Linked DNA regions of Homo sapiens: region 2 is linked to region 1. The links come from fine-mapping of genetic effects on gene expression. A gene starts in region 1. The other region holds a variant in brackets. All regions are shown on one strand. Distances are from middle to middle.

Evidence for each region. PIP is the estimated chance that this variant, and not a neighbour inherited with it, causes the effect. A credible set is the group of variants that fine-mapping cannot tell apart.
Region 2: its variant is the best candidate, but not a certain one, in a credible set for the expression of ITLN1 in whole blood (INTERVAL, PIP 0.66).

What each region holds. Positions count from the first base shown.
Region 1 is chr1:160,882,242-160,887,625 of GRCh38, forward strand. It overlaps ITLN1 (intelectin 1), which reads right to left and starts at 2,939. Exons shown (of 8, transcript NM_017625.3): 1 at 2,820-2,939; 2 at 2,579-2,642; 3 at 1,187-1,285. The coding sequence starts at 2,636.
Region 2 is chr1:160,854,130-160,859,513 of GRCh38, forward strand. All of the region lies in intron 1 of CD244 (CD244 molecule), which reads right to left. Among named protein-coding and RNA genes, the nearest start is that of CD244, 6.1 kb to the right of the region's middle. RefSeq lists an enhancer at 1,259-1,308. The variant GA/G (reference allele first, on the strand shown) is at 2,768.

The sequences.
Region 1 (5,384 bases):
AGCTGAGGGTTCATTTCAGCCCCATGACAAGAAAGGCCCTAGGAACCAGAGACATGGCCTAAAGGCTCCTGTCCTGACTCACATCACTAAGTGCTCCCAGGGGTACTGGGGCCTCCCTGAGTTCAGAAGATCATGCTCCTGTAACTGAGGCAGAACATAGAATTGTATAAAATCCCAGTGACATTTTTCATAAAGTTAAACATGGAATTATTGTATGACCCAGCAATTCCACTGCAGGTCTATCCCCAAAAGAATTGAAAACAGGGCCTCAAGCTGATGCTTTTACACCAGTGTTCATTGCAGCATTAGTCACAAGAGCCAAATAGAAGAAACAATTCAAATATTCACCAACAGGTGAATGAATAAACAAAACATGGTGTGTGTGCATATATGTATCTGCAGTGGATAAAAGGGAATGAAATATCCATGCTACAGCATGGACAAACCCTCAAAACACTGTGCTAAGTGAAATAAGCCAGACACCAAAGGACAAATACCATATGACTCCAATTACATGAGGTAACTACACTAGGCAAATTCATGGAGATAGAAAGTAAAATGCAGCTACCAGAGACTGAGGGAAGAGAGTTATTGCTTAATAACTCCATGTTATTTTTTGTTTTGTTTTGTTTTTGTTTTTGTTTTTGAGATGGAGTCTCACTCTGTTGCCCAGGCTGGAGTGAAGTGGCACTATCTTGGCCCACTGCAACCTCTGCCTCCTGAGTTCAAGCGATCCTCCCACCTCAGCCTCCCAAGTAGCTGGAATTACAAACATGTACTCCACACCCAATTGATTTTTGTATTTTAGTAGAGACAGGGCCCCACCATGTTAGCCAAGCTGGTTTCAAACTCCTGGCCTCAACTGATCCACCCCTCTCAGCCTCCTAAAGTGCTGGGATTACAGGCCTGAGCCACCGCACCCGGCCCCTCCATGTTATTAAGTACAGAGTTTCTGTTTGGGGCACTGAAAAAGTTCTGCATATGGATAGCTGTGATGGTTGCACAACCTTGAAGGTAATTAATGCCACTGAATTGCACACTTAATGTTGCTTAAAATGGCAAATCTTATGTAAATTATAATATACATATACTTTACCATAATTTTTTAACTAAAAGACAAAAAGACTCCCAGAAGACACAATCCTGATACCCTGACTGAGCTCTGTTTGAATGTTTCATCACTCACCAAATGCACTAGGACATTCGTCTTTGATTTCCTTGCAGCTTCTGGGCAGAGATGGAGACGAAGAACAGGTCCATTCCTTGAAGTAAGTATTAGCCTCATCTAGGGAATACACAGGGTTTATTCTCATTCCCGGTTTGACACAAAACCTACCCTCTCCTATCACTAGTCCCACGCTCATTCCACCACTGTAGCAGAACCTCGCTGCCCGGGTGGTAAGGCCTGAGACAGCCAGTGTCATATCCACTCAGCCCATCAGTGTCACATCCACTCAGCCCATCGGCATCATATCCACTCAGCCCATCCGACCTGACAGCCAGCACAGGCTTAAAGTCTGCCTCCCGCCACAAGACCTGTCCTTGTGCTGGGTCCTGCCCTAAGCACTGAGTAATCAAAGACATTAAAGTTCCCCAGCAAGAGCTTGCCTCTAGAGGGAATTGCTAACAAGTCAACAGAAAATTGTATTGACAAGAATAAATGGTAGAAGAAAGGCAAACTCAAGAGAACAAAAGAAAGACTCTGAGGTAACAGTGGAGAATGGAAACGCCAGACAGTAAGCGGGGCAGTTGCCTGGGAGAAGAAGGCAAGACGGGTTGTCTCATGTCTTAGTCACAGAAGACCTTCCAGTCCAGGTGACATCTTAGCTTATTCTGAGAGAATAAACATGATTTATCAGTAGGAAGCCAATCCAAGGCAGGGAAAACAGCATATCCAAAGGCCTAGAGAAAAAAAAAAAAATACAGCGTAGTCCAGCTGTAGAACTACAAGCTGCTTAATATGGCTGAAACATGGGGTGTGAAGTAGGGAGTGGTGAGACTAATCTCTACTCCAAAAAGTCTGCAAACTATTCGAACAGTCTAGGGGAAAGCTGTGAGGTCAGAGGTGACTGACCTCAGTTTCCTCATACCTAAAACACAGTTAATAAACAGTGCTTTTGCAAAGATGAAGTAAGAAGATATTTCGAAACAGCCTTTTCTTTAAAAAAAAAATTTTTAGACGTGAAGAAAAATATAAATTTTAAAATGTCATTGTTATTCTTGTTGTAGAGAGGAAAACTGTGGAGAGAACATTCTCCAGGCACAAAGCAGACCATGTAGTTCCCATGGAAATCCCACAGCCAAGGCCACAGGAGTGGGCAGTGGCTGGAAGGTGACACAGTTCTTGCCACAGCCCCCTCAGGGCCACACAAAAGCACAGAGCCTGGACCCAGGACATGCCTCAAGCAATACCTTCACTGCCACAGGCCAGATTCCGCCAGAGACCAGAAATCGGCACTCAGTCTACATGCAAGCCAGCCGCTGTGCATCTCAAGGACATGCTCTGTGTCCTGGGAGAGACCAGGATCCCGGAAGTCATCCAGCTGAAGGAACTGCTGTCCCTAGCAGCGTGACTCACCTGTACTCCATCCTCTGGTGGTCGCTATGAGAAACAGCAGGAAGCTGAGTTGGTTCATTGTAATCTAAAGAAAGCAAGATGAAGGTCACCATCTTGGCCATCATTTTTCTCTACATCCCTGCCCCACCCCTGTCCAGTCTTACAAAGACTCCAAAACCCCTTGCCTTTTGTTTAAACTTCACACATCTCTGAGACCAAAAGCAGACCTAAGCTGAAAACAGGATTCCCCCAACTCACAGACCTTGTCTGAGTCTCAGCTGCACTTTCCTTGGGTACAGAGAGCTCCTTCACTCCCTCCCTCCACTGCGCCCTGGAGCTCAACAGAGTGCAGCTTTCTCCAAAAACGCTCCTGATGTGGAATGAGGTGCAGAAAGCTTTATGGAGGAAGCCCAGTGGGGCCAACCAAGGTTTCCAGCCTCACCCTCCCCTGGCACAATGCCCAGTGCAGGGGAGGCTTCTGGTTATCTCGGGGAGGTTATTTATACAGTGGAATTAACAGGTTCTAAAGAAAAAACCAATCCTAAGAATCACCTGCTAGCGTTGTTCCTGGATCTGGGGGTTTCATGGACCTGTGTCAAGTAGGAAGTAGACGAAGAGATTAACAAGAGTTGGTGTTGGTTTTGGGTTTTTGTGCCTTTCTTTCTTGCAAAATAAAAACTTTCTCTAAATTAAGCATCTGTTGGCTTGGCACATTGGCTCAAATCCCAATACTTTGGGAGGCCAAGGCAGAAGGATCACTTGAACTCAGGAGTTTGAGACCAGCCTGGGCAACATAGGGCAACCTCTTCTCTACTAAAAATAAAAGTAAAAAAATTAGCATGGCATGGTGGTACTTGCCTATAGTTTCAGGTGGGGCTGAGGCAAGGCAAAAGGGTAACTTAAGTCCCAGAGATAGAGGATTCAGTGAAATATGACCGTGCCACTGTACTTCAGCTTAGGTATCTCAAAATAAATAAATAAATGAAATTAATCATTGGCCATAATTATCAATTCATAGAAATAGAAAAAGGAAATTTTAACAAAATGGGAAAGTGATCATTTCTGAATAAATTGGTAAAAAGGAATGGAGGGGAAAGAGATACAAAACACACAAAAAAATACGAATAGAAAAGTTTTAAAAAATATATAAATCTTTAGTTTGAATAATTTAGTTTCACACAAAGACTCACTACTTTGTCTTTAATTTTGTCATTTTGCCACAAACGAGGGAAAATTTACTACAGGATTCATTTGAAACTGAATCAATACGAAACCTCTCTGCTGCTTCGAACCTCCTGTCTTATTCCTGCTCCTATGTCATGAAGTTCTCAAATGCTACCCTGCAGCTGTAATAGAATTACTCAGTTCTTCCCCAGTGATATCATACATTTAATACATAATGTCATTATAGCATTAATAATACTGCAACCTTTTCTTACAAAGATTGTGAATATCTTTTTTGTTAAGCTAATATTTCCTATTTGTTGGTTCAAAGTACTGATTTGCAAAAAATACTCACATATTGATAGAAGAAAATAAAATAGCACCCAAGAAGAAAAACTGCAAAAAAAAGTTATACTTTTGTAAATTTAAAATCTATTAGAAGCTATTTGCTCTGTGTATCTGGAAAATAATTAATTAAATAAAATTAAATGTATTAGAAACTAAATTAACTCATCAGTATAGGTAACAAAATGAACATACCCAGCTTTCATATTTACAAACAACAACCTCTTAGAAATAGAGGTCTCAGCCAGGCGCTGCGGCTTACACCTGTAATCCCAGCACTTTGAGGGGACGAGGGTGGCCAATCACTTGAGGTCAGGAGTTCAAGACCAGCCTGATCAACACGGTGAAACCGTGTCTCTACTAAAAATATAAAATTAGCTGGGCACGGTGTCAGGCGCCTGTAATCCAAGCTACTCGGGAGGCTGAGGCAGGAGAATTGCTTGAACCCGGGAGGCAGAGGTTGCAGTGAGCTGAGATCGCACCATTGCACTCCAGCCTGGGCAACAAGAGTGAAATTCCATCTCAAAAAAAAAAAAAAAAAATAGAGGTCTCTAAGTTTACAGTTCACAATAGTAAATACATGTATATAAAGTTAACACCAAGGGCCCAAGATCTAGAGAAAAAAATTAAACATCCCCTCAGTTGTTCATTACTGTGTGTAACTAACCACCTGAAAACTTTATGGCTTAATAAAACAGTAACATATTTGCAAAAATAAAAAAAGAAAATATACACTTATACTACTTTCTTTAGTTGATTCTAAGACACTTTTTTTGTATTTTGACATCTTTAATATCATTATGCATCTCATCCTTAATGGTACATGATGCCATCTAATAGACTGGGAAAACAGTACATCCATTTTAAGGACATTACCCCTTCTAACCATCATCATCCAATCAGTGATTGCGTCCCATTGATTCTACCCCTACTTCCTCTTGAATCTGTTCCCCACACAACTTCCTCCAAACCCCACTGCCCTGGACATTTATTTAGTTCAGTCTGGTTCCTTGTAGCTGTAACTAATAGAAACCCCATCTCAAAGTGGCTTTTCTAAAAAGTAAATCTATTACCTCATGAAATAGAAAATCGAGAGAGAGGGCAAGATCCAGGCTTGCTTGACAGCAGCTTCTCTTTATTTTATTTTATTTATTTATTTATGTTGAGACAGGGTCTCACTCTGTTGCCCAGGCTGGATGGAGTGCAGTGACACAATCTCAGCTTACTGCAGCCTCAACCTTCCAGGCTCAGGTGATCCTCCCACCTCAGCCTCCCAAGCACCTGGGAATACAGGCACACACCACCACACCCTGCTAAC
Region 2 (5,384 bases), 28 kb before region 1:
TGAGTTTAATTTTCAGGTGTTTAGTGGTGGTTTCACTTTATTTTTATCTTTTATAAAATTGTGAGAGGTAGCACAAGTATTAAAAGGTACTTAAATATAAATATACGGTGTAATGAAAAATAACGTAAACTCCCATATAATCCACCAGTAGATCAGAATGTAGAGCGCTATGTAGAAGAAGGTTGTTCTCTGCTATTATAAAACTGAATAGGAATCACACAGGAAAATGGTTAAGTTATTGTCTAGACTTCTTTGTTTGTTTGTTTGTTTTAAGACAGAGTCTCGCTCTGTCACCCAGACTGGTGTGCAGTGGCATGATCTCGGCTCACTGCAATCTCTGCCTCCCAGGTTCAAGTGATTCTCCTGTCTCAGCCTCATGAGTAACTGGGACTACAGGTGCCTGCCACCACCCCCAGCTATTCTTTTTTTTTTTTTTGTATTTTTAGTAGAGACAGGGTTTCGCCATATTGGCCAGGCTGGTCTTGAACTCCTGACCTCAAGTAATCCACCCGTCTCAGCCTCCCAAAGTTCTGGCGTGAGCCACCACTCCCAGCCATAGACTTCTAAATACTTAAAGAATGAAATGTGTGATCTACAGTCCTCATGCTATACTGCCTTTGGGGTCTTTTTAAAAATTAGGCCGTTATATTTTATTTTTATGTAATATTATATTAGTTTATACATTTAAGACTGGTTTGTCTGCAAATAAAAAGGAGCTAGAGAGAACACCAGGTGTTGTTTTGATTTTTCAACTGGAAGGAAACTGTACTAAAGGTAGGAAGCCCACAGAAAAGGAGCAGCTGAAGAAAGATGAGGGATGTCTTCACAGACAGCAGGTCCCAGGTGACTTCTGAAAGAAGCTCTGGTGCCCTGAGCACACAGGGGAGTATTGGTCAAGGACAGGGCAAGAACACTCTTGCCCTCAGCAGAGGCAAATGTGGCCATTTACAGGAGTAGATGAAGTACATTGACACTGGAGACTTGTTGGCAAGGTTGGTGGAATCCCTAACTTGTGCTTCTGTTTTCTTAAAGAAGGAGGTTGTTGGTTTGTGGAGGCTGAGATAGTGGAACAGGGCCTTGAAAGAGATGACGAAGGTGTGGAATTCTCCCACCTTTTGGGGAACAGGAGAAGCTGTGGGCCAGAAATGAGGATTCCCAGGACACTGAGAGTCCAGCTGGGGTTGGAGATTACGAATCTGTAGCTGCTCTTTGTTGCTGAATTTTCTCCTGCAGCCCCCAACAGTCCAGTGTGGGAAGGAGGAAGATGGTTGGAATGAGTTTCCATGGACGGCCTGGAAGGGGTGGGTGCCAGGGCAGGGGTGCAAAGCAGATACGGTGAAAAGGCAAGTAGACAAGTCACTATGTCCAGGGTATTGTGACTGATACAGAAAGACCTCAGTTTCTGTCCCAGAGGGGTACACACACCAGATAGGGGAGATGAAATGCTACTACGAAAACATAACTTCAACACAAGTTCTCACACATTTAGTGAGGCATAGAGGAGGACCCAACAAGTGAAAATTGTTTAGAGGAAAGAGGCCACAGTCCAGGAAGGCCCCCGGGCCCCTGCCACTGCTGTTGCTACTGCTCAGCAGCTTTGGGGGCCACCTTCCTGTGGTTAAGAACGGATGAGGTGAACTAGTAACTCTGAAAGGGAGGGCAGAGGGCAGATGATTAACTCCACTGCAGCCTCAGGAAGAACAGAGGATGGTCAAGGAGACAAGTACAGAGGATGGTGAAGGAGACAATCTGATCCAGCAGTGAGTCCCGCTCAGCCCTGAGCCCATGTGCAGAGCTCTGAGTCAGCTCAGCTTCCTCCAACCTGGACCTGCCAGTCGGAGGAAGGTGTGGGGCCTGAGCACCTGGGAGAAGGAGCACGGGAGGGTCTCAGAGCAAGTGGAATTTCCACCAGCCAACAAATAGATGTTAAGGTTTTCTCAGCTAGGGCTTGTGCTACCAGGCTTGGGGTGAAGGCATCAAAAGATGTACCTGCTGGGGACTAAGTGAACAGAGTCCAGTGAGATTCCAAAAGTACTGGGGCAATCCAGCTCTAGTCAGGGCAAAATCATAAGATAGATAAAGTATCCTATAGGGCCCACATCCCATTTCTTTCTTCCTCTCTATTTAGCTTCATACTGACCATATTAACTCTCTTCCTCAGGCAATGCAACTCCCTTACCTCTGTCAAAACTCACCTAGCCCAAGTCCCACTCTTTGCATCAGTTAACCAAATCATCTCATATGTGATATTGTTTCTCCATGATAACAAGTGCATCTCCCTTTCCTGTTTCCCATCCAAACCCCATGCAACCCTGGCTTTTCTGAGCTGTTTCCTCTGCTTCAATTGTCCTTCTACTTTGTACCTACCTCCTAAACTCTTATTTATTCTTCAAGGCCAGTTCCCCAGTGTTCCTACCTAGAAGGAATCTTCATCTTCTTAGCTCCTTTTTTATTCTAAATGTATCTTGCCTGTTAATGACACATAGCATTTCCATCTTCCCTTATAGTTGTAATTATACATACCCATTTTCCTCTGTCTGAAAGATTCTTAAGGGTAGAATAGACATCTGTTTCATCTTTGTTTCCCCCACAAAACCTTGCATAGTTCTTGGAGCATAATAAGGGCTGGGGAAAGAGTTTATGAATAAGACCTCAAAAGCACAGGCAACAGAAGCAAAATAAACAAATGGTATTACAGCAAACTAAAAAAAAATCATGTACAGTAAAGGAAACAATTCACAGAGTGAAAAGGCAACCAATAGAATAG[GA/G]AAAAAAATTGCAAACTATGAATCCTACAGGCAACTAATATGCAGAATAGACAAGAAATTCAAACGTCACAACAGCAAAATGAACAACCCAAGCAAGGGCTTCATGAATCCGTTTAAATTAATTAATTCAACAATGCATCTCACATAACTCCTAAAAATGACTCTATTGTCAGAATTTCATGCAGGATACCAGAGAAATCACAGAGCTGTAATTCCCTTGCCTTTGGCCTCTTGCCAAGCTCCACATTTCCACAATTTAATTTTCCATCTGCAGACCTTCAGAACCAAAAGCCAGTGGCCCCAAAGCAGCATGGAACTCTCATGCACTATTTGGTTCAACCACTTTGGAAAACAGTTTGACAGCATCTGCTAGAGTTACGTACACATACTCCATGGTTCTGCCCCTAGAGATATACCCAACAGACATGCATGCACAAAAGGCTCATCACAGCATTATTATAATAGCAAAAACAAAATTGAAAGCAACCCAAAGGTTCATCAATAATAGAAAAGGTGAATAAACTATGATATAGTCATGCGATAAAATACTATACAGCCATGAAAATGATCTGCTACAAATAATAACATACATAAATCTCATAAGATGTTGAGCAAAAGTAGTCAGACACAAGAGTGCATACCGTTTGATTCCATATATACGGACAAAACAAATCTGTGATGTTAGAAGTCAGAATTGTGGCTATATTTATGGAAGACAGAGGAAGTAATGAATGGGAGAGAACATGTGGTAGACACAAGAGTGTGTTCATTTAACAATAGCTCATTGAGATGTACATTTGTAATTTTGTGTACTTTTCTGTATGTTGCACTTCAATAAGAGAGGTTTGTCTGTGAAGACAATGGCCTGGCTGGGCACAGTGGCCCACATCTGTAATCCCAGTAATTTGGGAGGCCAAGGCAAGAGGATTGCTTGAGCCCAGGAGGTCAAGACCAGCCCAGGCAGCATAGCAAAACCCCATCTCTACACAAAAATTAAAAATAAGCCAAGTGTGGTGATACATGCCTGTAGTCCCAGCTACTAAGGAGGCTGAGGCAGAAGGATTGCTTGAGCCCAGGAGGTCAAGGCTACAGTGAGCTGTGATCACATCACTGCACTCCAGCCTGGGTGATAGAGCAAGACCCTGTCTCACAAAAAAATAAAAATAAATAAATAAAAATAAAAAATTAAAAAAAAAAACAAGACATGCCCTGTCTCTCCTTGAAGTGATTTCAGTGGATTCCTTTCTGGATGGTGCTGTAGCCCAGGGTACATTGAATTCCAATCTCTTTTCTGTGTCCAGCTACTTTGCCATTCACCCTTTGTTGGAGGGGAGGTGCAATGAGGAAGAGAAGAGCAAAAACGACTCCAGCCCTTCTACAGCTTGCCTGGATCCCAGCCAAAGCAGTCGCAGTTAGACACCACTCCCTGAGAAGTGACAGTTCCAACACAATCTACGCAAACAGCTGGCAACCCTTGGAGCTAATCTATAAGGTGTCACCTGTGCCCTTTTATTGTCCAGCAGATCTCAACTCAGGCTGTAAAGCATCTGGGGATTCATAGCCTCCAGCCTGTGTGTCCTTTGGGGTTTCCTCAGAACGGACAACTGAAACCTGAATTTTGGGTCTAAAATGAATTTTAGGGCCCAGGCCTATTCCCTGGGCAATGATTTGAAGATCCCTCCTTCCCAATATGTCTAACCCAAAAAACATCCCAGGCTGCCCGTTAAGATGCCTGAAAATAATTCACTTATTCACTCAACAAACATGTTTTGAACACCTACTGCATTGGCACTGCACCAGGCACTAATCACAACTGTAGTAACAGTGACTCAGGCAATCTAGCGCAAGCTCTCTGAACAAACGGGCCCTGGACTTACTTGCCACTGAATCCTCAATAGCCCTGGTTCAGAGCTATTCAAAATATATCCAGAGAAAGAATGGGAACAGAGAGGGGGCTGCTATTGTGAAAATAAGTATCTACTGAGGGTTGACTTGTGGCAGGTACTGCTCTAGATGTTGAGGAGACAACGGTGAGCAAAACAGACAAAAGCCCTGGCCTCAAGGATCTTACAGTCTAGGGGGCTGAAGAGGAGACTGGGAGACAGAAAATGAAAAACATAAGTAAACAGGATGGAACATAAATGGAGATGAGGACTATGGAGAAAAATTAAGTGGAGAGAGAGCTAAGAGTTTGCAGAATGGCAGGCTGACATTTTCAGTGGGGAAGGCATCACTGAAAAGGAGGTATTTGAGCAAAACTCTGAGGGGTTGAGGGAAGAGGCCATGTAGCCAGCAAAGGAGCAGCATCCCAGGCAGAGAAAACTGTGGATACAACAGAGAGCGAGGTCCAGGACCAGCAGGCAACATGGCTGAAATGCTGTGAGCAAGAGGAGAGACAAAGAGGAGTGGGTCTTGGACGCCAGGTCACGCACCATTGTAAAATGCATGGCTTTTACTCTGCATGAAAGAAGAAGTCTTTGGAAGAATTTCGCAATGCTCAAGAGTTATATGCACATCTTACATAAATAGTACTCCTGTTAAATTATTCAGTAAACAAAGTGGTTTTTTAAATTTCACTGTCATCATATGACTCCTGATGGGATGCGCTGAAAAAGA